4 linked regions of the Homo sapiens genome follow. The protein of the gene in region 4 interacts with the protein of the main gene of each other region in a pairwise test. Each region holds a gene or a part of one and is shown on either strand. Other genes may lie near its edges. The genes, in order: BOLL, HR, SECISBP2 and FAM168A.

What was found.
Region 1: the proteins of FAM168A (region 4) and BOLL interact in binary tests that used the Homo sapiens proteins (3 or more experiments, as listed by UniProt).
Region 2: the proteins of FAM168A (region 4) and HR interact in binary tests that used the Homo sapiens proteins (3 or more experiments, as listed by UniProt).
Region 3: the proteins of FAM168A (region 4) and SECISBP2 interact in binary tests that used the Homo sapiens proteins (3 or more experiments, as listed by UniProt).

Annotation. Positions count from the first base shown.
Region 1 is NC_000002.12:197,754,295-197,761,319, reverse strand, and holds part of BOLL (protein boule-like), read left to right. Parts: intron 1-2,312; coding exon of another isoform or gene 2,313-2,378; intron 2,379-3,163; coding exon of another isoform or gene 3,164-3,172; exon of another isoform or gene 3,173-3,187; intron 3,188-3,919; coding exon 3,920-3,967; intron 3,968-4,763; coding exon 4,764-4,892; intron 4,893-5,358; coding exon of another isoform or gene 5,359-5,390; intron 5,391-7,025. UniProt on the Homo sapiens protein: Probable RNA-binding protein, which may be required during spermatogenesis. May act by binding to the 3'-UTR of mRNAs and regulating their translation.
Region 2 is NC_000008.11:22,128,011-22,135,373, forward strand, and holds the start of HR (lysine-specific demethylase hairless), read right to left. Parts: upstream 3,001-7,363; 5' UTR 2,699-3,000; coding exon of another isoform or gene 2,594-2,698; 5' UTR 2,418-2,593; intron 1,201-2,417; 5' UTR 1,161-1,200; coding exon 549-1,160; intron 1-548. Other genes in the region: protein HRURF, read right to left, coding at 2,594-2,698. UniProt on the Homo sapiens protein: Histone demethylase that specifically demethylates both mono- and dimethylated 'Lys-9' of histone H3. May act as a transcription regulator controlling hair biology (via targeting of collagens), neural activity, and cell cycle.
Region 3 is NC_000009.12:89,321,491-89,328,515, reverse strand, and holds part of SECISBP2 (selenocysteine insertion sequence-binding protein 2), read right to left. Parts: intron 3,090-7,025; coding exon 2,840-3,089; intron 2,620-2,839; coding exon 2,478-2,619; intron 1-2,477. UniProt on the Homo sapiens protein: mRNA-binding protein that binds to the SECIS (selenocysteine insertion sequence) element present in the 3'-UTR of mRNAs encoding selenoproteins and facilitates the incorporation of the rare amino acid selenocysteine.
Region 4 is NC_000011.10:73,588,109-73,595,133, forward strand, and holds part of FAM168A (protein FAM168A), read right to left. Parts: intron 1-7,025.

The sequences.
Region 1 (7,025 bases), on a different chromosome or scaffold from region 4:
TTTTTGCTTGTCTATGAAAGAGCTGGTTTTTTTAGAGACAGAGTATAGTGACATGATCATAGCTCACTGCAGTGTCAAACTCGTGAGCTCAAGTAATCCCTCCCACCTTAGCCTGCCACACAGCTGAGACTACAGGCATGTGCCCTGCCTGCTAATTTTTTTTAAGAGATAGGGTCTTGCTATGTTGCCCAGGCTGGTCTCAAATTCCTGGGCTCAGGCAATCTTCCTGCCTTAGTCTCCCAAAGCACTGGGATTACAAGTATGAGCCACCACACCTGGCCTTGTGAAAGATCGTATTTCTCCTTCATTTCTGAAGGATAGCTTTACTGGGTATAATATTCTTGGCTGGCAGGTTTTTTTCCTTCAATATTTTGAATATATCTAAATATATCATCCCATTCTCCCTGGTAAGATTTCTGCTAAGAAATCTGCTGTTAGTATAATGGGGATTCCTTTAATTGTGACTTGATACTTTTTTCTTGCTGCTTTTAAAATTCTTTCTTTCTCTTTGACTTTTAACAATTTGACTATAATGTGCCTCTGAGAGGATCTGTTTAGATTGAATCTGCTAGATTCAACCTATCTGCTAGGGTAGTCTCTGTTTAGTCTCTTAAGCTGTAATACTCTCTAGTTGTGTTTCCAAGTTTCTCAGTGACCTAGCAAAAGAGAGTCTATGACAATGGTGGTAGGGCTTTGCCAGGGGTGGGCTTGCTGAGCTGTTCCTCAGGTCAGGGCTGTGTACATGAACATGGTAAGTCTGGCTCACTGGGCTTGGGGCCACAGGGCTGTTACTCTGGCTGAGAGCACAGGCATGCAGTTTCTCAGCCAGCCTGGAGGAGTGCCCACCAGAGGCAGCCTGTGGGGCTGTTTCTCAGGTCTGGTATGCAGGCACATGGCTCCTTCGCTGGCCTGGGGGTGCATCTGCTGGGGACAGCCCATGGGACTGTTTCTCAGGCCTGGAATACAGCTGCATGGCTGTTCAGTCGGCTAGGGACATGTTTGTCAGGGGCTGTTTCTCCGGCTCAGGATGCAGGTGCACAACTGCTCACCTGGCCTAGGGGCATGTCTGCTGGGGGTGGCCCACGGAGCTATTTCTCAAGTCTGGGACATAGGCACAGGGTGGATCACCCGGCCTGGAAACGTTTCTGTGAGGGCTGTTTCATAGGCCCAGAATGCAGGCACAGGGCTATTGGTCGGCCTGGGATCATGCCCACTGGAAGCAGCCTATGGGGCTGCTTTTCAGGCCTGGGACACAGGCTCCAGGCTGCTCAGCTGTCCTGGGGACGTGTCTGCTGGAGGGGTGGGCACGAGGCCATTTCTTAGGCCTGAGGCATGGACACACAGCCACTCCACTCCCCTGGGGACATTTCTGCCAGTGGCAGTCCCCGGAGCTGTTTCTTGGGCTCTAATTGCATGCACAGGGTAGGTCAGGGGCTTGTCTGCAGGGCGTGAGGCACCTCTGGGCTGTTTCTCAGCCCTGTATGCAGGTGTGTAACCATTCCATCCCGGCAGCATGTCAGCTACTACGAGGCTTGAGGACCTGTCCTGCTCAGGAGAGTGCAGCAGTTTGACCAGCTAAAGAGTGGGTTCACCCTGGGCAGGTCAGCCAGATTGTTCCTCTAGCTGGAGGTGAGGGCAACAGACGTTGGTTTCCCTACTGTACAGAACCAGAATCACAGCCAATCTTGAGCCTCAGGTTCCATGCTGCTGAGGTTGTGTTCAGCCACTGGTGTGTACTTGGCAGAATGAAAATGGAACCCCAGTACTGGAGACGTGCAATAGCTACTGGCCCCCTAGAGATGACTATGGCTTCAAGATGCTGTCACGCTGTAGCAGCTTCGCTCACAGGGTGGGGTTGAGGGGGTGGGGAGTACACACTTTGTACTCCTAATTCGGGGCAATGCAGCCACGAATTCCCAGCAGCTCTTCAAACTGTGAGACTGTGGGATTCTCCTGTTGCAAGGAGTGTGGCTGTTTGCAGTAGCAATGCAGGCTGGTGGGGATCTTCTGCTTACCTTTTCCCTGCAATAAGAAACTGCAGGACTCCAGGCAGAACCAATCCTAGCAGAAGAGAAGGGTTTGCAGAGGCTGGGTGGCTCCATGCTGCGCTCCTGGATTTGCAATCACCACAGGTGTGTCTCCACTCCCCTGCGGCACTCCAGCACTCTCCTTTTGATGCTCCTGTCAAATTGTAGCTGTTTATTCTTTGCCTTAGTCTTTTCTTGTGGCGGGGTGGGGAGCCAGTGGAAAATGAATGCTAGGCATCTCTGGTCAGCCATCTTGCTGACATCATGCCTCTCTTTTTTTACGAGGGAATTAAACAATGTCATACAAGAAGATGGATGGACTCTTTGCTTCCTTTTACCAAATGTGATGAGGTCAGTTTTGCTCCCCTGGCTAACATTTAGATCTAAAAAGTCTTTAGCAATAATTCCCCAAGTAAGATACAGGTATTGGACTGCAAGCTGGTTTTTTAATGTTAACATATGTCAGTTTCTTGCTATATTATATTTAACATAATTTATATTAAAGCAAATAATATATTGTGGTTTATTATATATTATGATATCCTCTTTCAGTTAACCAGCACTCTTCATTAATTTTAGTGAGAAATTGGGGATAAGTGAACTATAATGCCAGATCATTCTGGTCTATAGCAGGGTCATCAAACTATGGCTTGCAGACCAAACTCCAGCCAGCAGCCTGTTTTTGTAAATAAAACATTATTGGAACACAGCCACATTTGTTTACTTATTGTCTATGGCTGTTTTTGTGCTACAGTAGATGAGTTGAGTCTTCTTTTTCCCCTTATCCCAGTGCTAGGCAACCAGTAATCTACTTACCTGTTTTTCTAGATTTGCCTATTCTGGATATATCCTATAAAAACAATCATACAATATGTGGTCTTTTGTGACAGGCTTCTTTCATTTAGCATAATGATTTCAAGATTTATCTATGTCATGATAAATGAGACATGACATATCTCAGTACTTCGTTCTCAAATAATATCCCATTGTATGGATACACTGTACCACATTCTGTTTATCCATTCATCAGATGATGGACACTTGAGTTGTTTCTACTTTTTGACTGTTATAAATGATACTGCGATGGACATTCACATACAAATTTTTATGTGAACACATATTTTTATTTCTCTTAGGTTTTATAACTAGAGTGGAATTGCTGGGTCATACGGTAACTTTGTTTAACCTTTTAAGGAAGTGTTTATTTTCCCAAAGGGCTGCGCCATTTTACATTCCCACCAGCAGATTATGAGGGTTCTAATTTCTCCACGTGCCCGTCAACATTTATGATCTACTTTTTTGATTAAAGCCATCCTAGTAGGTATGAAGTGATGTTGTATTATGGTTTTGATTTGTATTTCCCTGAAGGCTAGTGGTGTCGAGCATTATTTCTTGTGTTTATTGGCCATATGTATATCTTCTTTGGAGAAAAGTCTATTCATATCATTTACCAATTTTTAAGTTGGGTTACTTGTCTTTTGATTATTGAGTTGTAAGAGTTCTTTATACATTCTTGATATAAGTTCCATGTTTTCTCTCATCCTGTGGGTTGTATTTTCACTTGCACAAAAGTTTTTTAAAGTTTTGATGAAATCTAATTTAACTATTTTTTGTTGTTGCTTTGTTGTTTATGCTTTTGGAACCATAATTTTAAAAACATTTCCTAATTCAAGGTCACAGGCATTTACACCTATGTTTTTTTCTAAGAGATGTATAATTTTAGCTCTTACATTTAAGTCTCTGGTCCATTTTGAGTTAATTTTTGTATATGGCTTGAGTTAATTTTTGTATATGGTGTGAGGGTCCAACTTCATATTTTTGCCTGTAGATATCTAGTTTTAACCCTTGTTTATAATCAGAATGGGTTTTTCTTTTCTTTTATTTAATTTTAGGCCACCACACAGTATTTACCAGGACAGTGGCAGTGGAGTGTTCCTCAGGTAAATGTTAACTTTCAATATATAATTTTAAATCCTTCTTTCATTATATTCTTGTGATGACTGCATGAATACTAAAGTTTTTTAGATTTGAGACCTTCTTCTTCTGTTTATTAACTTATTCTTTTGGCAGTTCATTTTCAGTTTCTTCATTTGTAAAATGGATATAATGATACTATACCTTTGTAAGTTTCCTTACATGATTTTTGTGAATATCAAATGATAATGCATAAGTGAAAGCATTTTATAAATGTGTACTGTATAAACATGAAAACTTACCCTTTTTTACTATTAGTGTTATTTGAAAATTTAGCATTTTTCTAACTTCATTTGGATTTGGCTTCAGTTTTTATTCTGTTCCTAAATAAGTATTCTATTTCCCAACTTTTGGTAACAAATAGTACTTCACCAAAAAAGTTTCACATTTTCCCACTTTCATTAGAAGTCACAGAGCTGAGAGTAGACATTTATGTCAATTTAAATACCATAGATCACATTATCACAACCTTTACTGGTGACATTAATATAACCATAATTATTATCTGAATTTATATATGAGGTTCTCAGTCATTAAGAAGTTCTAGTGCTTACCAATGATAAGATTCTTTAACTACATCTACACAGTTGGAATTTATAACAGATCAGTTTCTAATCCGTTGCTGAGATACTTCTGTGCTATTCCTAAAAAAAAATTTAGTAAAATAAAAAACAAGTACTTCTCTCATCTGTTGGCTAAGTCATTTGGTTTAACAGAAATAACTAATCATATTTGAATTAGAAATATGGTTTTGTATTTTAGCCTTCTGCCTCTTCTGCTCCATTCTTATACCTGCAACCTTCTGAGGTTATTTATCAACCAGTGGAAATTGCACAGGATGGTGGATGTGTTCCTCCTCCACTGTCTCTGATGGAAACTTCAGTTCCAGAGGTATGTATTAGTCTTAAAGTAATTGATCTATAACTACCTCATGTTAACATTTATTTCTTTTTCTCTTTTTTAAATTTGTTCACGACCCTCATTGAAACTGCTTCATCTTTGTTTTGTTGATTTATTCAAATCTCTTCCCCTTTCTTATATCTAAGAATGCATCATCTTAGACTTTTTCGCTAACTAGTTCTGAACCATTTCCCAAATCAACCATTCACTCCACTAAGCTAATCTTTGATTTGATCTTTTTGAAATAGTAAAATTCCAAATACTCTGCATTCTCATTTTGCCTGTCAATCTGTATTGTTACTAACATTCTATTAGTCAAAAGCATATAATTAAGATGAAGAAGAAAAAAAATCTTTAAAAAAATTCTTCCTACAAAAATGTAAATTAAATTTATAATTACAAATTTTAATATCCTCTTCAGCATCTTTAAATTATATTTCTGATCCGTTACTTATAGCTTCACCATCTGTATGCCAGGAACTGTGCATGGTATGTTTTATTTTATATTTTTTATTTTATATTATTTTAAGTTCCAGTACATATGTGTAGGATGTGCAGGTTTATTACATAGGTAAACCTGTGCCATGTTGGTTTGCTGCATCTATCAACCCATCACCTAGGTGTTAAGCCTGGCATGCATTAGCTATCTTTCCTGATGCTCTCCCTTCCCAGCCCCGACACGTCCCAATGTGTGTTGTGCCCCTCCCTGTGTCCATGTGTTTCTCATTGTTCAGCTCCCACTTACAAGTGAGAACGTGCAGTGTTTGGTTTTCTGTCCCTGTGTTAGTTTGCTGAGGATAATGGCTTCCAGCTCCATCCATGTCCCAGCAAAGGACATGATCTCTTTCCTTTTTATGGCTGCATAGCATTCCATGATGTATATGTACCACATTTTCTTTATCGAGTCTATCACAGATGAGCATTTGTGTTGATTCCATGTCTTTGCTATTGTGAATAGTGCTGCAATGAACATACACATGCATATATCTTTATAATAGAATGATTTATATTCTTTGGGTATATACCCAGTAATGGGATTGCTGGGTCAAATGGTATTTCTGCCTCTAGGTCTTTGAGGAATCACCACACTGTCTTCCACAATGGTTGAACTAATTTACATTTCCACCAACAGTGTAAAAAAGCGTTCCTGTTTCTCCACAGCCTCACCAGCATCTGTTGTTCCTTGACTTTTTAATAATCGCCATTCTGACTGGTGTGAGATGGTATCTCATTGTGTTGATTAGCATTTCTCCAATGATCAGTGATGCTGAGCTTTTTTTATGTTTGTTGGCTGGATAAATGTCTTCTTTTGAGAAGTGTCTGTTCGTGTCCTTTGCCGACTTTTTAACGAGGTTCTTTGTTTTTTTCTTGTGAATTTGTTTAAATTCCTTGTACATTATGGATATTGGACTTTTGTCAGATGGATAGATTGCAAAAATTTTCTCCCATTCTATAGGTTGTCTGTTGACTCTGATGATAGTTTCTTTTGCTGAGCAGAAGCTCTTTAGTTAATTAAATCCCATTTGTCAATTTTTGCTTAGTTGCAATTGCTTTTGATGTTTTCATCATGAAGTCTTTGCCCGTGCCTGTGTCCTGAATGAATAGTATTGCCTATATTGTCTTCTATGGTTTGTGTGTGTGTGTGTGTGTGTGTGTGTGTGTGTGTGTTTTGGGGTTTTTTTGTTTGTTTTTTGTTTTGTTTTTTGAGACGGAGTCTTGCTCCATCGCCCAGGCTAGAGTGCAATGGTGTGGTCTCGGCTCACTGCAACCTCCACCTCCCAGGTTCGAGTGATTCTCCTGCCTCAGCCTCCTGAGTAGCTGGGACTACAGGCACGTGCCACCATGCCCAGCTGGCTAATATTTTCATATTTTTAGTAGAGACGGGGTTTCACCGTGTTGGCCAGGATGGTCTCGAGCTCCTGACCTCATGATCCACCTGCCTCGGCCTCCCAAAGTGCTGGGATTACAGGTATGAGCCACTGCACCCAGCCCTTCTGTGGTTTCTATAGTTTCGGGTTTTACATTTAAGTCTTTAATCCATCTTGAGTTAATTTTTGTATAAGGTGTAAGGAACGGGTCCAGTTTCAATTTTCTATATATGGCTAAACAGTTTTCCCAGGACCA
Region 2 (7,363 bases), on a different chromosome or scaffold from region 4:
CTCCCCCAGGATTTCTCAGACGTCCCCACAAGGAAGTCTAAGAACTAAAGAGTGAATGCCTGGCACAGCCAAAGGGCATCTGGGGTCTGTTTGGGCCATTTGGTGTCCTGTGCCATACTGAGTTTTAAGTGTTTTAACATCTCATCCCTGGGAGTGGGAGTCATCTATGGAGGAGGTACCCTAGACATGGGCCATGGGGTCCCCTGCACATCCCAGTCTCAGATAGAGGGCCCTTGTCTGCCCACCCATCTCCTCCCAGGACAAGCCACACATTCCAAGGCCACAGTTCCCAGGACCTTATCCTAGGCAGACAATGGGTGAGTCAGTGGCTGCAATGACCCGAGGGCAGGGGAGGCCTAGAGAGATGGAGCTGCTCAGGGTAGGGCTTGCTTGGGGTTGACTGTGGGGCCTGGGACAGCTCCAAGCTGATAGACCCCTCTACCTCGGTGCTGCCTTCTCTTTTCATCACAGTGGAAGGGCATCTTGGGGACCACCGAGCAACTTTGCTAGGCCAGAGCCACAGGTACCCTCTCTGCCCCTGCACTCACCTTGCTGCCTAAGCTGAAGGCAGAGGGCACTTTGGGCTGGCCCCCGGAGTATACCCAGGGGTGCGGGGTCAGGGGCCAGTCACATGGATGCTCTGGGGGCAGGCCAGACACTAGGTAGGGTGGCAAGCAGGTGGGCACCCAGAAGGGAGCTCGCTCCAGGATCTTGGTCTCCAGAAGGAAAGGGCAGTGCCAGGGCCGGAAGGCCACAGGGTCACTCTTGAGATGGCCACCACTATGCTCAGGCATCAGGGGGCCACAGCGAGGTGGGCACGCTGGCCCGCAGAATGCCAGCGGATGGGTAAGCATGGCCTCCTTCCAGCGCAGTCCCTCTTTGCTGCCCAGCCAGTTGACCTTCCTCTCCCCATTCTGGGGGCCCTCGCCCTCCACAAGTGGGAGCATGTCCTTGGGGCCCTGGGGGAAGCCAGGGGGAAGCCAGGAGTCTGGGGTGCTCAGGACGCCCCTCCAAAAGGGAGCAGGCTCTCCCAGGCACAGCGGCCCATGGTGCAGTCCATCTCGAGGCGGGCTGCCGGGCTCCTGTCTCACGATGCCGTTCTCTGGGGCCGTCTTCTCCCAGGTTGGGGTGCCCTTCAGGAAGCTGGGCGTACTCTCCATCACTCTCCTGCCCTCATGGGGCTCTCCCAGAGGGGGGTCCCTGGAGCATAACCATCAAAGCATGAGCTTCTGGGGCACATGTCCCAAGCACCTTACAGCCTGGCACAGAGTGGGCACCGCCCTGGCAACACTGAGGCAGCTCAAACCAGTAAGGCAAGTGCCAGCCCACAACTGGGCACCATGCTGCCTCTCCACATGCAGCCAGACACATCTTGCTCCTCCAGTGTGGGGATGTTACCCCTTCCCCAAATTCCACCTGGGCCAGTGCCCCTCAGCGGAGGCTGCCATTGCTAGTAGGGCATGTCCTGGCCTCACCAAGCTAGGAATCTGCTCACGACCCATGAGGGAGGACAGAAAGTGGAAGGCACTGAATGAAGAAAAAGGCTGGATCCTGAGCCTGACTCTGTCCTATGCTGTATGGCCTTGGGCAAATCATGTCACTCCTCTGGGCCTCAGTGTGCCCTTGAGGCTTGGGTCGGCTCAGAGGATTCTTCCCATCCTGCAATCCGTGGTTTTGGGGGTGCTGCTAGCCCAACCCTAGCCTACAGCCCCAGCCAGGCTTGTAGCCGTGGGAAGTGCAGGCCTGGCAGGCTGGAGTCGCTGGGGAACGCTGCCAGCCAGGGCCGCTGGCTGTGTCTCTCTCTACACCTGGGCGGCCCTGAGTCAGCCTCTTCCCAGAGCCCTGCAGTTTCTCGGCTTCTCAAGCAGAGTCCCAGGACAACTGCAGGGGGCTAGGAACCCCGCCCTGGCCCCCAGCGGGAAGAGCGCGCCGGCACAGGGGAGGGGGATTAAGAAGCCTCAGCTGGATGGGTCAAGCTGCCCTAGCCCAGCCAGCAGTGCCAGGGCAGCCGCCACCGCCGCTGGAAACTTCAGCCTGGCGGGGAGGGGAGAGGGAAGGAGGCGGGGAAAGCGGGCTGGGCCCCAGAGAGAGGCAAGGGAGGGAAAATTGAACGTGCGTGCAAGGGACCAGGATGACAGGTGGCACTAGAGCGGCAGCGCTGCCTTGGCGCGGTCCCTTCGGCCAGAGCGACGAAGCCCCAGGCGGGAGGTGACGGCGCAGTGGCAGAGGGCGCCCAGGTTTTCTGGAGCCACCGCTCCGCCGTGGTCTGGCCGCGTCGGGCTTCCTAACTTTCAGGTGTCAGAATGTGTGGCCCAGCCCACAGGGGCACGGGGAACACGCTCCGTACGGGCACCGCAGGCTCGGCTCAGAAATCCCCCGCCACGAGTGTCCCCAGACGGCGCGCTCCTGGCGCTTACCTGGGCTTCACCGGCCGGTCGCGGCGCGGGCGGTGGCGGTCGTCGTGGCCGGCACCGGGCGCCTGCTCCCCATGGGCCAGCTCCGGGGCCTCCCGGCCGGCGGGCGAGGACGCGTTCTCCCGCTCTGTCTGCTCAGCGCGCTCGCGCTCTCCTTCCCCCGGGGCGGCGGGGGCGCTCTAGGGCCGCAGGTTGGAGGGGTCGGACTCCGGGATCTGCAGGATGCGGCACACGGCGCGGATCGGCCGCACCAGCTTCTGGGCCGAGGCCGTAGGTTGCGCCATGGGACGCCGAGACTCCGTGCTGCGCCGCGGGGAGGGCCGGGCCGGGGCTAGGGAGCGGGTGCCCCCGGAGGGAGAGAAGGCGCCGGGCCGGGGGGAACACGCGCCCCGGGTCGGAGATGGCCGAGTTGGGGGAAAGGCCGAGGGGCCGGGGAAGGGGGTCGTGCCTGGATGGTGGGGGCCGATCCTGGGACCCAGGAGAGAGGCACCGGCGAGGGCGCAGCACCGCGCAGCGCGGCTAATGGAGGTAGAGCGCGGCGGAGAGCGCAGCAGGACCTCTGATCGCCATCGCCAGAAGCGCAACTGAGAGTGGGGAAGCTGCTCCGCCGGTTTCCTCCTCCAGCACCCTGCGGGAAACAGGAGCCCGTGATTCGGCGGCCGCGCCTGGGCCTGCCCCCTCCCGGGCCCCGGGGGCTTCCGCCAACGCCCCGGCGATGCCACCGGCTGCGCACGGGGAGAATGAGCCCTTTGTTCCCCCTCCCCCCCGCGGCACCCGGGCGCCTGCCGAGAGAGGCTCCCCCGGGGCAGCGTGCCAGCTTCCCAGCCGCCCCACCCTCCCGTGGGCCCGGCCCCGGAGCCTGGCAGGCGGGCGGCACCCCCACTATAGGTGCCAAGCCCGGGAACTGGAGCAAAGGGCGGGAGGGGCCGGACCAGGCCACGGTTGGGCGGGGTGCCCCCCAGGGTGCTAGGGCGGGGCGGCTGGGAGGGGGCAGTGCCAGAGCTGGCAGGGGCAGTCGAGTTCTCACGGGTCAGTGATGGGCGCTCTGGCCCACGCCAACCGGGCTGTGCCTGCCGGGCCACTGGCTCCTGGTCCTCTCCATCTGTGGCACATGGCACGCCCCACTGGCCTGTGTCTGCCCTGCCTCATCCTCACCTGGCCAAGCTGCTCTTTGCCATCTTCCACCCCAAACCCTTCCCAAACCTCTTCCAGAGCCCAAGGGCACAAAGGGTTGCGTCCTAGGACCTCTGGGAGGGCCTGGGCTTGGGTCTGTCCCTGGTCTAAGGGCCTTGATTTTGCCAAATGTCTGGAGAGGTCATGGGCCCAGATGAGCTCCGACACCGGCTCCAGACCCCGGGCTGTGAGGGTCTGCCCCATCCCCAGGGTTCCTGGTGCTTCCAGGCCAGGGGCTGGAGAGGCGCCCATGGGAGTGGCTCCCGGGAGAGTGCAGAGAGGAGGAGAGGAAATGGAAAAGCAGGGCACCCTCCACCCGAGGAAGCATCCCGGCTCCGCTGCGGGGGTGGTTCCAGTGCAGACACAAACAGACAGATTCAAACACACACAGACAGATTCAGACTCACACAGAAACCCACACGCCCAACGGGCGCTTCCCTTCCCCTCAGGCACCCACCTCCCACCCTCGGCTCCCCTGCCTCCCTGCGGAAGCCAACCTTGGCCTGCCTGGGACAGAAGCTGCACTCCCTCTTTCCCATCCCTTGCAAGCGATGGGTTCTGGATGCCTCTAGCTTGGTCCCAAGTCACACCACCATCCCTGCAGAGGGGAGCCCTGAATAGCCAGGAGCCTTCCTCCTAAGGGATGAGCAAGGCCTAGAGCCTTCTACCGGTTGAGAAGAGTGGGGGTCCTGGGGAGCGGGGGTCTAAAGGAGCGGGCACTGGGCCGGACTTGGGCCATGTTGGCATCCATTCACCCTGCCCCTGGCCTGCCCCCAGAGGCCAGTTCTGTGGCAAGGCAGGCTGGTAGGGGTTGTTTACATGACTGAGTTAGTAACACTCCCTTCCTCCCCAGCTCCCCTGAGGGTGGCTGGGACCTGAGTGTGCCAGGGGAGATGCTTGTAGAGGGTCTAACATGGACTGGAGGCCCCAGGCCCTGAGGCCCGGCCTCCCACTCCCAGGCTGGCTCCAGGGGTGAAGGTAAGGGCTGGGGTGTGTCTGTGGTCCCCCATCTGTGTTCTCTGTGCTCCCTCCTCAGCAGCCGAAGCTTGTGGGAGTGCCAGGGGGAGATTCCTGCGGCTTGGGGCCTCGGAGAGGCCAAGATGGGAGCCTGCGCTGTCCAGAACCCTGAGGACCTATCGCTGACATCCCCAAAGGGGATGGGGACTATCCCAGGGGAGTGGGGCAGATATCCCCCCCAACCCCAGTTGCCATGTCTGCTTTGTCAGGCCACGGTCCCTGGACTAGAGTAGCAGGGCTCTTGGGGACAGGCTCCTGAAAAGCCCAGGGGCTCGTGGGGACTCGCGGGATGGGAGGAAGGACCCCTTCCCCACCCTCGCCCAGCTCCCCATCCCGCTTTGGAGCCCATGCCACAGGCCCACAGAGTCCTTGTAGCCGGCTGTTCTGTGCCTGAAGACGGAGCAGAGCTGAGGAGACACACAAAAGACACAAACACAGAAGAAAAGCCACACGGCGCGTGGACACAATGCCAGACTTGTGGACAAAGGCAAGCTGACCAGCACCCCCAGCCATTCAGGGGCCAAGCCCCAGCCCCGCACCGACCCCTGGCTCACTGACACACACTCACTCGCTGACACACGCTCGTGCTGACGGGCACAGCAGCACTCACGAGCCGGCGGCCCTCATGCCATCCCCAGAGCCCCTTACCTGGGCAAGCACAGTGCCCCCCGGGCGGAGCAGCCCCCGGCCCAGGGGAGGGCAGCAGGCGGGGGCGGGGGAAGGAGCCCCGGAGAGTCAGGCCAAGCTGCCACTAATCCGGGCGGGGAGAGGGGGGGCACCCACGTCAGAGCGGGGACTGCCGGGTGGAGGGCATCTGAGGACATCCCCTCCCACACACGCGGCCGTCTGGGCACCTAGCCCTGCTTCCCCAGCCCCTCCATCCTTCAGACAGCTGAGGCTGGCCTCCCCCCACCCCACCCCCCACCCTGTGGCAACGCCTGGTGGGGGATGGGGAAGGGGGAATACCAGGCGAATTCTCCCGGGACCCGCGGGGGTGGGGGCAGGGTGTGGGGAGGAGGGGAAGGGAAGTGTGGGGATGCGTTTGGAACCCGGAGGAAGCTCCAAAGCAGATGCCGCCATCCCCTCCCGCCCACCCACCTACATCCCTAACCTAATTCCTCTTCTCAGTCTGCACCTCCCAGTGCGCTTCCTCCTCCCCCCACCTCCCCTCCCCTCCAGGTTACCCCCACAAGCTACCCACCGGGGAGAGGAAGCCAGCTCCACTCTGCCCTGGGCTTGAGACCTTTGTGCCTACCCGGAAACACCAACTGTGGCCCCCAGGACTTCTCCAGCAGCAGAGAATCCTCCTCCTGCCCAGGCGTCTGCCCCCTACCCAGCTCTTGAGACCTCTGGTCCCTGATGCTGGGTAGAGGATGGAGCCAGAGGCTGAGTGCCACCTCCTTAACCCCCTCAAGGTGGAGGGCAGTGCCAACCAGGATGCCCCAACCCAGCCTGGGCCAGGGCTGTGTCAGAACTAGAGGCTAATCAGTGACAGCTAAAAATACAGCCAGTGCGTGCGGCGCACATGGAGGCTGGAGACGGGGAAGGGGACCAGGACACGGAGGGCCCCAGGCCTAGAGGGACAGTGATGGGGGCTGAAGAGTCAGGGAGGGAGAGGAGCCACCTGGAAGGGCCAAGGGATGGCTGTGGGTGGAGAGCAGAGAGAAGAGAGGGGCAAGAACAGAGGGCGATCCGCACCCAGAAACCAGGGTGGATATGCAGGAACCCCTCAAAAGCAGACAAGCTGCAGGGGAGGTGAGGAGTGAGACCAGGGCACAAACCAAGTGGGGCAGGGGCCAGGACCCAGCAGAGGTGTGCAGCTCTAAGGGGACTGGCTGTGGCAGCTTTGTGTCCCCACCAGCCCTGATCCTGCTCGTGGCCCACTGTCTGGTGGCGAGAAGAGGGTTGGGGGTGCTTAGGCAGGCTGGCATGCAGCCTCCTCTTCCAAGAGAGGCCAGGCCAGAGGGGGTGGAGGGTGAGACAGTAACCCCCTCCAGTGTGCAACTGGAGGCAAAGTGTGCAACTGCTGGGCAAAGGTGAGGTCTCAGGGGTTCTCAGAGAGGCAGGGCTGGCTCTCAGGGAAGCCCAGTTGACAACCAGTGCCCTGAGCCTCCGGGTCCCATGTGTGCTCACCCAGAAATGCCCCAGAATTTGGACTTCTCCTGGCTCCTTCCCCTCTGTCCCCAGCATGTGTTGGAATTCATACAACTGCAGTCAGCCGTTCACCAAACCCGTGTTCTAGGGGCCTTGGCATGTTCAAGGCTTGGCGGTGGGCCCCAGGCGATGCAGGGCACAAAGGCAGAAATCACGAGGCCATCCCACCCGCCCGGCCTCCCCCACCCAGAACATATGGTCACTTCACGCATTTGTTCTTTCACCAGCAAAACTCCTCCAGGCTTCTTAGGTATTGGCCCTGTGCTGGGCGCTGGGGGTGTTGGGCTTGTTCATGAATGATTACAAGATGCTTCTAGTCCCACCCTGGGGAAGTCAGGGGAACTTCATGGAGGAGATCAGAGAATGAGATCAGGACTTCACCACCCAGTCGCGAAGTTACAAAAGTATTTCACTTCGGTTAGACCATTTGTTCCAGGCTGAGCTACAACAGTGTGTAAAATACGTCTGTCCTTTATGAAGTCACAACACAGTGGGGGAGAAAAGGTCACATGCTCAAGGCAACAACAGAAGTCTGTGCAAGAACAGAGGTGGTGTGGTCCAGACAGCAAACCACTCCGAGGTGAGGGAGTGCTTGCGGAGGGCTT
Region 3 (7,025 bases), on a different chromosome or scaffold from region 4:
TCACCTTCCTTTGTAAAAGTATAAAGTTTAAATGACCATAAGTATCAATCACTCTGGTTGGACCATCATGCAGAAAAACCAAAATGCACTGTACATTTAGGAGTATGTATAGTCACGCGCCACATATGATGGTCTGATCAGCAATGGATTACGTATACAACAGCCCCATAAGATTGTAATGAAGCTGAAAAATTCCTATTGTCTACTGGTAATGTCATGGTGCGATTACTCACGTTTGTGGTGATGCCAGTGTAAACAAACCTACTGAGCTAACAGGCATATAAAAGTATAGTACATGCGATGATGTACTGTACATAATACTCGGTAATGACAATAAACAACTATGTCACTTGTTTATGTATTATACTTTTTATCTTTGGAGTATATACTCCCACTACTTACAAAAGAAAAATTTGGCCAGGGCAAGGTGGCTCACGCCTTAATCCCAGCACTTCGGGAGGCTGAGGCAGGCAGATGCAGCCACGAGTTCCAGACCAGCCTGGCCAACATGGTAAAACCCCAACTCTATTGAAAATACAAAAATTAGCTGGGTGTGGGGGCGCATGCCCCCTAGCTACTTGGGAGGCTGAGGCACAAGAATTGCTTGAACTTGGGAGGCAGAGGTTGCAGTGAGCCAAAATAGTGCCACTGCACTCCAGCCTGTGTAACACAGTGAGACTCTGTCTCAAAAAAAAAAAAAAAACACAAAACGACAAAAGAAAAACTTAAGTATAAAGCAGCTTCAGGCAGGTCCCTCAGGAGGGATTCCAGAATAAGGCATTGTTATCACAGGAGATGACAGCTCCACGCATGTTACTGTCCCTGAAGACCTTCCAGTGGGACAATATGTGGAGGTGGAAGACAGTGATACAGATGATTCTGACCCTGTACAGGCCTAGGCTAATGTGTGTGGTTGTGTCTTCGTTTTTAATTAAAAAGTGTAGAAAGTTAAAAAAAAATTAATAGAAAAAAGCTTATAGAGTAAGGATGTAAAGAAAGAAAATATTTTTGTCCAAGCCAAGTATTTTTGGTTTTTCTGCATGTTTGTGTTTTATTACAAAAGGTAAGTGTTATTACAAGAGTCAGAAAGTTAGAAAAATTAAAAATGTATAAAGTAAAAAAGTTACAGTAAGCTAAGGTTAATTATTGAAAAAAATACTTTTATAAATTTCATGTAGCCTAAGTGTACAATGTTTAGAACGTCTCCAACAGTGTACAGTAACACCCTAGGCCTTCACATTCACCCACCACTCAGTCATCGAATCACCCAGAGCAACTTCCAGTTCTGCCAGCTCCATTCATGGTAAGTGCCCTATACGGGTAAAACATTTTATATCTTTTTTTTTTTTTTGGAGACGGAGTCTCGCTCTGTCTCCCAGGCTGGAGTGCAGGGACGCTTGATCTCGGCTCACTGCAAGCTCCGCCTCCCGGGTTCATGCCATTCTCCTGCCTCAGCCTCCCGAGTAGCTGGAACTACAGGTGCCCGCCACCACGCCAGGCTAATATTTTGTATTTTCAGTTGAGACGGGGTTTCACCGTGTTAGCCAGGATGATCTTGATCTCCTGACCTCGTGATCCGCCCGTCTCGGACTCCCAAAGTGCTGGGATTACAGGCGTGAGCCACCGCTGTACCTTTTCTATATTTTGATACACAAATACTTACCACTATGTTACAACTGCCTACAATATTCAGTACAATAATATGGTCTAAAGGTTTATAACCTAGGAACAACAGGCTATATCATATAGCCTAGCTAGGTGGTTGGCTATACCATCTAGGTCTGTGTAAGTACACTCTAAATGTTCCCACAATGACGAAATCACCTAAGGGCACATTTCTCAGAATGTGTCCCCATCAGTAAGTGAGGCATGACTATAATTCTAAGGCTGATGAAATAGTTACCTTAACCTGATTGTGCAGCTGGGCATTTTAATTATTCTTTTTAGACATTTTATTGTATTGCAAATTTAAAGGGACTCTAATGAATTTTCTGTGCTAGTAAACTTTCCATCTTTCAGTTTGCTGGAATAAACTAGAGGGAAGCAGGTAGCATAAAACGCATAACCTCTTCCCCATCTTTCTCCTGAAATGCAATGGATAAGGTAGGCTGCAGCTACATGAAGCCACTCATTTAATTATAAGACCACAGTTACTACAGTTAATAAACGTCCCTTGTACCAGATGGTTTATGAGTGAAGTCAATGAAAAGAGAAAAATGTATATACCAAATAATACAAATTATAGGCACTTAAGATCCCACAATGCAACAGGTACCAAATAATAATCCCATCCCTGGGAAGAAATACCTCTAGAATTGCTCAGGAAGTCTGACGCCCTAAGCTGTGTCAGACCCAGGTCTCATTTCTTGGAGTAGTCACAATGAACAAGCCCATAGAAACAGCTGTATACATAGCAGGAATGTTTCTGGGGCACAAGGAGTAGGCTCGCATTATACTACATTGTTGGTTATTTTTACCTGATTTCAAACTATTCTCAGCGTAAATGGACAAATGATGTGAACCTCTAGCTGATTTTATCTCAGATGATATAGTTCCATCAGCCCTTTCACTGTCAAACTTTTGCTGATCATACGTTTTTTTCTCATCATAGGTTTTCTTCTGCAGGAAAGATTAAAAAGCAACATGAAATAAAACCACCACTATAAAAAAGGTTTAAAGCAGCAAAATATTAAGTATTCACAATTCAATCATTTTTTAAAAGGTTAAATACAAAAAAATACATGATACTTAAATATGATGTACAAATTTACCATTTCTTTACATTTTAAACATTAAAGCAACCAACTAAAGGACACAACAAAACAACATCACTACTCACCTTAAACAGAGCTTTCATTTCTTGTGGGAGAGGGCATGTGTTCTCATTTCGATGCTTCACTGTTTGAAAACCTCGGTAACAACTGGGTTGGTTATAAAGATACTGGGAGCCAGGCACTGAGTAAACATTCTGTGTGGAGTCAAGGGTATAAGGAGAATAGGCATATGGATGAAGAGTTATCTCAGAAGATAAATACTGAGGTGGAAAAGTTGAAGCTCCAAAGGCCATGTCTTCAGTATATATTTTCTGCCTAAGTAAAAAGTGTAAACTTTAGTTGCAGATTTCATACTGCAAACCAAGAAGCTTTTCTGTAATAAACTAATTCAAACTGAACATTTAATATTTCTGAGACCATTCACTCTAGCACTGGAATAATCCCTAATTAAAAGCCAAATAAAATCTCTGGGTGTTTCTTTCTCACCCTGCAAAGAAAGATGTTGACTCTATTTTTTCACTAATGAGCTGGAAGTCCGTAAGAAACATCAACAGAGCCAGAAGATGCTCCAGCAGCTTTTCACCCAATTGCTACCAAGTATTTGGGAAAGCCTCTCCCAGCAACCCTGGCCAAAATGCCCCTAAAGACCATTCTCTCTGCTGCGGGGAGACCCAACAGCCTGCAATGCCTCCACCAAGGCTCCTGCAAATGGTTTTCTCCAGCCCTTCCCTGCTCCAAGCCCACCATGACATCCTGCGCTTTGCTGACTAACAGGGTCAGAGCGCAAAGCAGACACCGCACGGCACCGTGGATGTTAACTACACACTTTACTAACAGATGGACACCAGCTTTGAAGGTTGCTATTGCCTCAATTTATCCCAAGCTGCTAGACTAAACCAAAATATAATTTAACACTAATTTTTCTTTTTTAGCCAATTTGATACAAGGCTACAGGTTTCAACCTTTTTCCCATGAAAGCTGATACAATGACAAAATGCTAAGCAACTGATTTAAAATACAAATAGTAACCTCCTCCTTCCAGCAAATGTTTCTGTTAATTTCCGGAGCTATTCCAAAATGTACTAGTACACTGAAAGGCAAAAAATCCAAACCTAGTCATGACACACCCTTTAAGACCTTCAAACTGCTACGCTGTCAGGAGATATGAGCATAAGCACCGCTTACTAGAAATCATATTTCTAATGCGCTGCAAGTAACAGACTACACTGAATAAGAAAGGGAGACTACAGGCTCTACCTATAATATAATAACGTTTACTGCTTTCACTTCTATCCAGTACTTAATCATATATTCTCTCATCTCACTGTTTACTATTTCATGATATGTTAACTTAGATTTTCTAAGATCTTTTACTTACAGGTAAGTAACTTTAACATGAAATATTCCTAATTAAAAATCAAATAAACCCCTTTTTACTGACCTTTGTCTGTCCAACAAAACAACTGGCCTAGCACTGCTCCAAACATACAGCACTGAGGACTAGCTCTTTGTAGAAAAGAGGCTCAAAGCTTCATCCCACTGCCTACATGTTCCTGTGAATTCTGTGCTGTATTTTGTTTGTAGTTGAGAAAAGCTAGTGGGGGGCAAGTGTCACTGAAGGTGGATAATCTGTTCTTCATAAAAGATGAGTTGACAGAAAAAAAAATGTGAAAAAGACTGTCCCAAGTCCAATAAATAGATAAATGAACAGACAAATGAAATGTAGCTAAAAAGGAAAGCAGGGACAGGTTCCATTGGTTTTGACGGCTGCTGTCATCCAGGAAATTTTCATCCAGGAGTCAGGAGACCTTGGTTGGGGTCCTAGCTCAATCACAATCCAGTTTTCTATTCTGGGTAAGTCATTTGGGTTTCTGTCCCCTCACTGGTCCTTCCTCCTCTGGAAAGTTGGTATTTTCCATTTCCATCCAGTGCAAACACAATTACATGCAGAAAACAACACAAAATACAAAACATCAAAGCAGTAACTCACAGCATCTGGCGTGGCTTCAAATGGCATGTCTGGGAAATTCCAGATGCCAGGAGTGGCCCAGATGACCCTAAACCCACAGTAACACACCTGTTTCTCATTCACTGTCCTAAGCTACCCCATCCATACTAAAATCAAACTGTCTGAGTAATTGTGCAATACCTGCTGGTCTCCTGGCTCCACTTCCCTTTGCCCCTTTCCCACCAACGGCTTCCAGGTCTCCCAGGACCTCCTTCTTGCCTCTCCCTCCAGGCACCCGTTGGGTCTGGCTTGACCATCACATGACTTGAAAAGCTCCCTGGCCTGGACTTTGCTCGCCTGGCTCTCACCTGCCCTCCAAGGCTCTATCTCTGTCTCTTTCCCTAGTGCAGTCTCCTCTACACCCTCCTTATCTCACCCATCTGACACATTCTGGGTCAGAACCTCTTATCTTTCTGCTTAGGACTTGACATAAATATAAACAATCCAGCACCTTCCCTAGTCCAGGCCTCCATCTCCAACTTTCAGGTCATTTCCACTTACTATTTCACTTTTTCCCAATTCAGCACGTATAAATCCCAAATTTAACATCCATTCCCCAAAACAGCCCCATTTACAACTTCTGTTCTCATGTATGATCCTACAATTATTTCCATGTATTCAACCGAATATTTTTGTAACATCTTTCCCACCAAAACCTGTACGGACAATCATGGGGCTCTTTTTTATTTCAACAGTTCTCTCATGTAGTTTCTTTACTATTTCCAGTGCCTAGAACCTGGTCAAAGCCTTCAAGACCCTCTTCTTTAAAAATCTTTCCAAAATTTAGGAGTGATTACAATGACCCCATTTAAGACACTACCAAAAGTTCCCTATTGCCTACCCAGCAAACCTAAAACTTTTCAGCTGTACTATGCAGGCTTCCAATCTACTGACAGCTTCCCCCCAAAATTATCACTTTATTCCTCTACTATCTCCCAAACATATCATGCACATGGTCCCTTCAGTCAGGCAACGACCCAAAGGGGATGCAGTTTCTCCTCCACCCACCGAGCCACGTGCTCAGCTGTACAATGTTGTATACCACTAGTTCTTCTCATAGCTGATCTGCTTTAACTCAAAAGCATCAATTGGTACTAAAATTTTCACAGTATATTGGCAGATGGTGAAAATGCTCAACTACCTCTTGTCAATAGCAGCAGCAATTTTGAAGAATAGCACGTTAATTCTGGTTCTGGTGCTACCTATTTGAATTAGCATGAACAAACATTCCTAGCTTCAGTTTCCCATGTGCAAAATAACATTACATCTGCCTGCCACCTCATGGATTGTAGTAACTATGAAAGAAGTGGAAGTATACAATAATACCCAAACAAAAGGCACACATCCTCATACACAGGTTGCACAGGATTTTTCACAAAGGATGTAACATGACAATGGACATTACTTGGAAGAAACTTATTTTGTTTGCATAGGCAAATTTGTTCATTACATCAGTAAATAATCAGTATTTTCCAAACATGGCAAATGTTATCTATCAGACTACTTCTAATTTCTTTGTCTTGTCCTATAACATAAATATGGAAGAGTCTGGTATGTTCATTTTCATCTCCATCACTTCAAAACTATGGAAGACTTTCAATAATTAATTCCAAATGAATAAATGAGCATCTTTGAGTGCACTGTGAAAGGTACTGGAGGAGGACAAATTCTGTAAAAGGTTACTATACCTTCTTTAAGGAAAGATGAGGGAAGGGGACATACAAAGTTGACTTAGGATGCTATGTAGTTGAACAAGTAAGAAGGAGGAAATAGTTGTTTCAGAAACTTCTATTCCTTTTGTCACAGCAGCAAGAGATCTCCATTTACATGTAATCTGACTATGGCAATGCAATTTTTAATCTATATTAGAACTGCTCAGATAATCAATTCTCAACCATGTGAAGTCTCATTATTTCATCCCCACTTTAAAGGATCTTTTCCTTTCTAACTCTTCCTCTTCAACTTAATGCCTTCCTTATCCTTGTTTTCTTGCCAGGCGTGAATACTTTTCCTTGGTCATAAACCAAAGCTAAAAAAGAAGAGTTAAGAAAACTATTTTTTTTTTTTTGAGAGAGAGTCTTGTTCTGTTGCCCAGGCTGAAGTGCAGTGGCGCAGTCTTGGCTCACTGCAACCTCCATCTCCTGGGTTCAAGCAATTCTCTACCTCAGCCTCCCGAGTAACTGGGATTACAGGCACCTGCCACCACACCCGGCTAATTTTTGTATTTCTGTAGTAGAGATGGG
Region 4 (7,025 bases):
AAAGCACTTGTGCAATTGAGTTGCAAACTGTACTGGCTGCTTTAATAAACACCATTTTTACTTGAAAAAACGACTGGCAGAAAAACTATGATTATTCAGACTTGGATGTTTGGCAGACAATTTTTTGAAAATGAACAATGTGAGACTGTCACTTCAACGAAAACAACTGTCAGTATTGGTTGCCTATGATAAAATTTGAGCTTTCAAATGAAAATTAGAAAAGATTTGTCTGATGAGATGAGTGGTGATATTAACAAATGTGGGTTCTTAAACATTATACAGTTCAGAAGATCTGCACATGGCCAGGTGCGGTGGCCCACATCTGTAATTCCAGCACTTTGGGAGGCTGGGTCAGGGGTATCACTTGAGCCCAGGAGTTGGAGACCAGCCTGGGCAACACAGTGAAATCCCGTCTCTATGAAAAACTACAAAAATTAGCAAGACACGGTGGCCTGCACCTGAAGTCTCAGCTACACGGGAGGCTGAGGTGGCAGGATTACATGACCACGTGAGCCCAGGAAGTTGAGGCCAAAGTGAGTCGTGAATGCACCACTGCACTCCAGTGTGAAACCCGGTCTCAAAAAAGATGCTCCACAATAACTCAATAATATAGACTGAACTGCCTCCCCTCAAAATTCATAAATTGAAGCCCTATTCCTCAATGTGATAGTATCTGGAAACACATCCTTTGGGAGATAATTAGGTTTAGATGATTTATAATTAGGTTTAGATTAGGTCATGAGGGTGGGGCTGCCATGATGGAATGAGTGCCTTCAAAAAGAGACACCAGAGAGCTTGCCTGTCCACTCGCACTTATTCTTTCTCTCTCTTCTCCCTCTCCAATCCACCATGTGAGGAAACATCGAGAAGATGGCCATCTAGATGCCAGTAAGAGAGCCCTAACCAAAAACTAACCATGCTGGAACACTGATCTTGGACTTCTTTCTAGCCTGCAACACTGCGAAAAAATAAATTTTTGTTGTTTAAACCACCCAGTCTATGGCATTTTGGTATGGCAGCCAGAGCAGACTAAGATATTCAGTGAACCAATATTTTCCAAATGACCAACGCATAATGCTACAAAAATTATGCACGGGTAAAAGATCTAACAAAGTACGAACAGACCAATGGTTTTTCTTGGAGAAATAAGCAAATTAAAAAATAATAAAGAAAAAAACAGACCAATGGATTTTAATGTAACAGAGCATGAAAAGCTCAGTGATATGGTTCAGACTGTACAAGGCAATGAACCTTAACAAACTACCAATTGTCAAGTTTTGGTGTAACATGGGCGTCCAACCTTTTGGTTTCCCTGGGCTACACTGGAAGAAAAATTGACTTGGGCTTCACATAAAATACACCAACACTAACGATAGCTGATAAGCTGAAAAAAAAAAAAAAAGAAAAAAAAAGTGTGTATAATTTTCATGATATCCACTACAGATAAGCAAAAAAGTCCTCACATTCAAAGGGCTGGACATGACTGGTGTAGTATCAAAGAGGAATATCCACAATTATATAAAAACATTCCTCCTTTCGGCTGGGCACGGTGGCTCACGCCTGTAATCCCAACACTTTGGGAGGCCAAGGTGGGTGGATCATGAGGTCAGGAGTTCAAGACCAGCCTGGGCAAGATGCTGAAACCCTGTCTCTACTAAAAATACAAAAATTAGCTGGGCGTGGTGGCGCACGCCTGTAGTCCCAGCTATTTGGGAGGCTGAGGCAGGAGAATCACTTGAACCCAGGAGGCGGAGGTTGCAGTGAGCCGAGATCCTGCCATTGCACTCCAGCCTGGGCGACAAGAGTGAAACTCCGTCTAAAAAGAAAAAGAAAATTCCTCCTTTGTGGGACTGGATTTTCTTTATATTCCATGCAAAACAACAAACTGCAACAGACTGAATACTGAGGCAGATCCAATAAGATACTAAAGAGATTGTTTTAAATGTAAAATATTATTCTAATTTTTTACATTTAGAATAATATACTTATTTTCATTAGAATATGCTAACACAGCTGAAGGCAGTGGCTCATGCCTGTAATCCCAGTACTTTGGGAGGCTGAGGCAGGAGAATTGCTTGAGCCTAGGAGTTCAAGACCAGCCTGGGCAACTGAGCAAGATCCTGTCTCTACAAAAAAAATTTTAAAATAACCAGGCATGGTGGCACATGCCTGTAGTCCCAGCTACTTAGGAGGCTGAGGATGGAGGATCACTTCAGCCTAGTAGGTCAAGGCTGCAGTGAGCCATGACTGTGCCACTGCAAGCAAAAGTTCTTTGGAGTTGTCAATAAATATGAATGTGAAGACACCAAAATGTTTGAGAAACTGTTGCTACATAGCAATAAGCAAGAACACACTACACCTACATACAAGAATAAATGAGTCTCACAAATATATTATATATGAAAAGCCAGTCACACCTATGAAACGTCATAAACAGGCAAAAATAATCTACATTATTAGAAGTTGTTGGTTTCCTTGGAGGAGGAGATAATGTTCCCTTTCTTGATCCGAATGCTGGTTATACATTTTGTGCATTTTTTTCTACATGTTATACATACCTCAATATAATTTATTTTTAATTTATATTTTCCATATAAATATACACACATCTGCCTTATGCTCACCTACAGAAGTTTTGTTAACACTGGTCGAGAGTAGAACTGACACATATCTTTTTTTTTTAAACAGCTCCTCGGGTGATTCTAAAGAGTAGCCAGATACTACCTGTCTAAATAGGTTGAAGACTACTGATTAGGCTGGGTGCAGGCTCACGCCTGTAATCCCAGCACTTTGGGAGGCCGAGGCAGGCAGATCATCTGAGGTCAGGGGTTCAAGACCAGCCTGGCCAACATGGTGAAATCCCATCTCTACCAAAAATACAAACAATTAGCCGGGCATGGTGGCACGGGCCTGTGGTCCTAGCTACTCAAGAGGCTAAGGTAGAAGAATCACTTGAACCTGGGAGGAAGAGTTTGCAGTGAGCAGAGATCGTGCCACTGTACTCCAGGCCGGGAGACAAAGCGAGACTCTGTCTCAAAAAAAAAAAGAAGACTACTGATTTAACAGCTTAAAACCAGGAAGATTTATATGCAGTACAACAAAAAGAACAATGGCTCTGGAGCAAGGCAGATCAGGTTTTTAAATACGAGCTTTTCTTCTCTTACTAGCTATGTAAACAAATGCAAACTAGTTAATCACTATATGCCTCAGTTGCTTCAGTTTCTTCTTCTGTAAAATGATCACAATTCCTTATACGACACAAATATGAGGATTAAATTCTATCTATAAGGAAAAGAAAGCACCCAGCATACTGCCTGCCATAGACACTCAAATGTTAGGTACCTTTTGTCTTTCCCTGCTAATTCCCTACTTGTCTTATGGCCTAAGACAAATTACCCTCTTGAATCTTTTTATTCATTTATTTATTGAGATATAGTCTTGCCCAAGCTAGAGAGCAGAGGTATGATCATAGCTCACTGTAGCCTCAAATTCCTGGGCTCAAGTGATCCTCCCACCTCAGCCTCCAAAATAGCTATGAACAGAGGTGCACGCCACCACATCCAGATAATATTTTTGTTTTTTGTAGAGACTGGATCTCACTATGTTGATCAGATTGGTCTTGAACTCCTGGGCTCAAGCGATCTTCCCACCTTGGCCTCCCAAAATCCTGGGATTACAGGTGTGAGCCACTGCACCCAGCTACCCTCTTAGAGTCTTAATTTCTTCATCCTTAAAATGAAAATAATGCCACATGACCAACCTAAGAACTATATATAAAATGGCGCCATTATATTTGCATAAGTATAAATAGCATAGCTGTTATCTACTGATAGAGACATTTGCTATCAACTCAAAATAAAAGATAGAGGAAGACACATTAGAAAACTAAAATACTTAGAAAAATTATAAAACAGAGGCTAGAAAAGAAATACAAGTTAGCAGAAATCGTCAAGCTTGAGCGACATGATCAGAAGGCAAATCAAGATCATAATCTCAAGTAGCCAAGGATTGAAGTTTACTGTGAAAAATATATCATCTCAGGGTTCCTTCAAAATGTCTATATCTAAGAAAAAGCACAACCTATATCATCATAAAATAGGCATATTCTGAAAGGACCCAGACACCTGCCTAACTGGCAGGAGGAGGAGGTGTATTGGAACTTTATAAACTGAGGTTTTCTCAGAGTGTCTTCATACAGAAAATAATGGCTCATTTAATAAAATGTTAAACTTTTAGATAAACATAATTTGACAAAAAAATTCTATACCATTGTTTTCAATACTAAAGATATGCATAACTGTCCAAGGAAGTAAATTTAACAAAATAGAGAAAGAAATATGAACTTGGTTTAGTCTCTTTCCTCTTCAATATTTTACAACTTTGAGTTGATTTCTGTTAACGTACCAGGGGTCGGCCAGCTATGGCCCGCCCATGGCCTATTTTTGTATGGCCTGTGAGTTTTACATTCTTAAAACCACATAAAAGGAGGAGAAAGAGAAGGGGAGGGAGAAGAAGGAATGGGGAGAAGCAAGAGGAGGGGCTTCAGGAAGGAGAAGAACGGGGAGGGAGATGGGGAGACAAAAAGGAAGGGGAGTGGAAGGGAGGAGAAAGAACAACAGAGGCCATATGTGGCACAAAATATTTTCTACAAAAAGCATTTGCCAGCCAGGCATGGTGCCACATGCCTGCATTTGTAAGCACTTTGGGAGGCCGAGGAAGGAGGATCACTTGACCAGGACAACATAGCGAGACCCTGTCTCTACCAAAAAAAAAAAAAAGTGTTACTGGGTAATAGGACTAAAAACAATACTTATGCTTCTTTTTACTTTTTGTAATTTCTAGTTTTTATCATGAGCACACATTATTTAATGGTGGAAGAAATAAAGCTTTTTTAAAAGTTAAAAAATAAGAATAAGAATAAAGCAAGTCAGAAGAATATTTATCCTATAATTCTATTTATAAAAAGTTGCAAAGGTAAAAAATATACTGTTTAGGGATATGCACATATTTGGTAAAAGTATAAAGAAAAGCAAAGAAATGATTCACATAAAATTTAGGAAACTGTTTATCTCTGAGGGAGAGAGAAGATGGGAGATTCAATCAAGTAGGACCTCACAAGAGGCTTTAAAGGTACTAGAAATCTCCTTTTTGTTAAGCTGGGTAGCAAGTAGAAAAGCCTTCAATTTGTTATTCTTTAAGTTGTGGGTTTATGTTAAATATACTTTTATACATATGACATATTTTACAATTTAAAAAAAGGATATAAATGGGGATGACAAATTAGAATTTGGGGGCTGTAACCCAGACTTTTCCACTGACTGTGTAACCTTAAACAAGTCATTTAACCTCTCAGAGCATAATTTTTCTTCTTATTTTATTAATGAGGAAGCTAACAGCTAACATCTGTTTAGGACTTTGGCATTTAAAGAACTGTTTAAAGTTCCTAGACTGTAAACATGCAAATATGCATGAGATCATAAAACAAAATCATACCTCATTAATAAATACCACAATACTAAGAACTCATTGGTAGGGCACACAAGGCTATTCACCATTCTAGCCTCTGCCTATCTTTCTAACAATAAAGGCAACAACTAATTTTTTTAATGTGTACTATAAAACATATTGTGTGAAATGCTTTCCATTGATTATCTTATTTAATCCTCAAAACAATCCTATGATGTTAATTCTATTATTCGCACTTTACAGATGAGCCCATTGTGCCCAACGTCACACAGCTAATAGTAAGTGGTAGACAGACTTCAAAACCCACATTTAACCATAGCATTCATTTTGCCTCACTTTTCTCACCGTATTTGTCTATCTTTCCCATGACACTGAAAGCTCCTTGACAACTGCTTTCTGTTCATTTTTATTTCCCCTGGCACTTAGCAGACATTCATTAAATAAATAAATAGTGAACAGATATTTCATATATGTACAGTGTTTTCAGGACATGAACTGGTTTGTTCCCCTTGACAGCCTTGTGAAGTATGAAAGTTTGATTGTGTGACAGGGTCTCATTCTGTAACCCAGACTGCAGTGCAGGGAAGCACGATCATGGCTCACTGCAGCCTTGACCTCCCTGGCTCAAGCAATCCTCCCACCTCCCTCCTGAGTATCTGGGATTACAGGTATACGCTACCACACCCAGCAAATTTTTTTTTTTTTTTGTGGAGACGGGTCTCCCTATGTTGCCCTCACTGGTCTCGAACTCCTAGGCTCAAGCAATACTCCCAGCTCAGCCTCCCAAAGTCTGGGATTATGGGCGTGAGCCACTATGCCTGGCCAGTTTTTTTGGTTTTTGAGGTTTTTTTGTGTGTGTATTTTTACCTTTTTAACCAAAGTTAAGTGTACAATTCAGTGGTATTAACTATGTTCACAATGTTTTGCAGCCATTACCACTAAATATGAAAGGTTTTTTGTTTGTTTTTTGTTTGTTTGTTTTGAGACAGAGTTTCGCTCTTGTTGCCTATGCTGGAGTGCAATGGCGCAATCGTGGCTCACTGCCCACCTCCCCAGTTCTAGCAATTCTCCTGCCTCAGCCTCCCAAGTAGCTGGGATTACAGGCACGTGCTACCAGCTAATTTTTGTATTTGTAGTAGAGATGGGGTTTTGCCATGTTGGCCAGGCTGATCTCAAACTCCTGACCTCAAGTGATCCACCCACCTCGGCCTCCCAAAGTGCTGGGACTACTGGCGTGAGCCACCACGCCTGGCCATCTGAAAGGTTTTTAATGACTTGACTGAAATCACTCAGCTTTCAAGTAGTAGAACTGGGATTTGAATCTGGGACTCAACTCCTAAACTCATGGGCTATTCGTTCCACAAAGGCTTCTGTCTATCAATACCTCCATCTGCTCTCTTCTCACCAAGATATCGGGAGGATCAAATGAGGTAAAGATACAAAAACACATTACTACTACACAGGTAACCACGGCTGTGGAAAAAAAAAATCCACCAACACATTTCTCCCAGGCACTTTTCATTTTGGGCTTTCAAAAGCTAGGGCTTTAATATAAACAT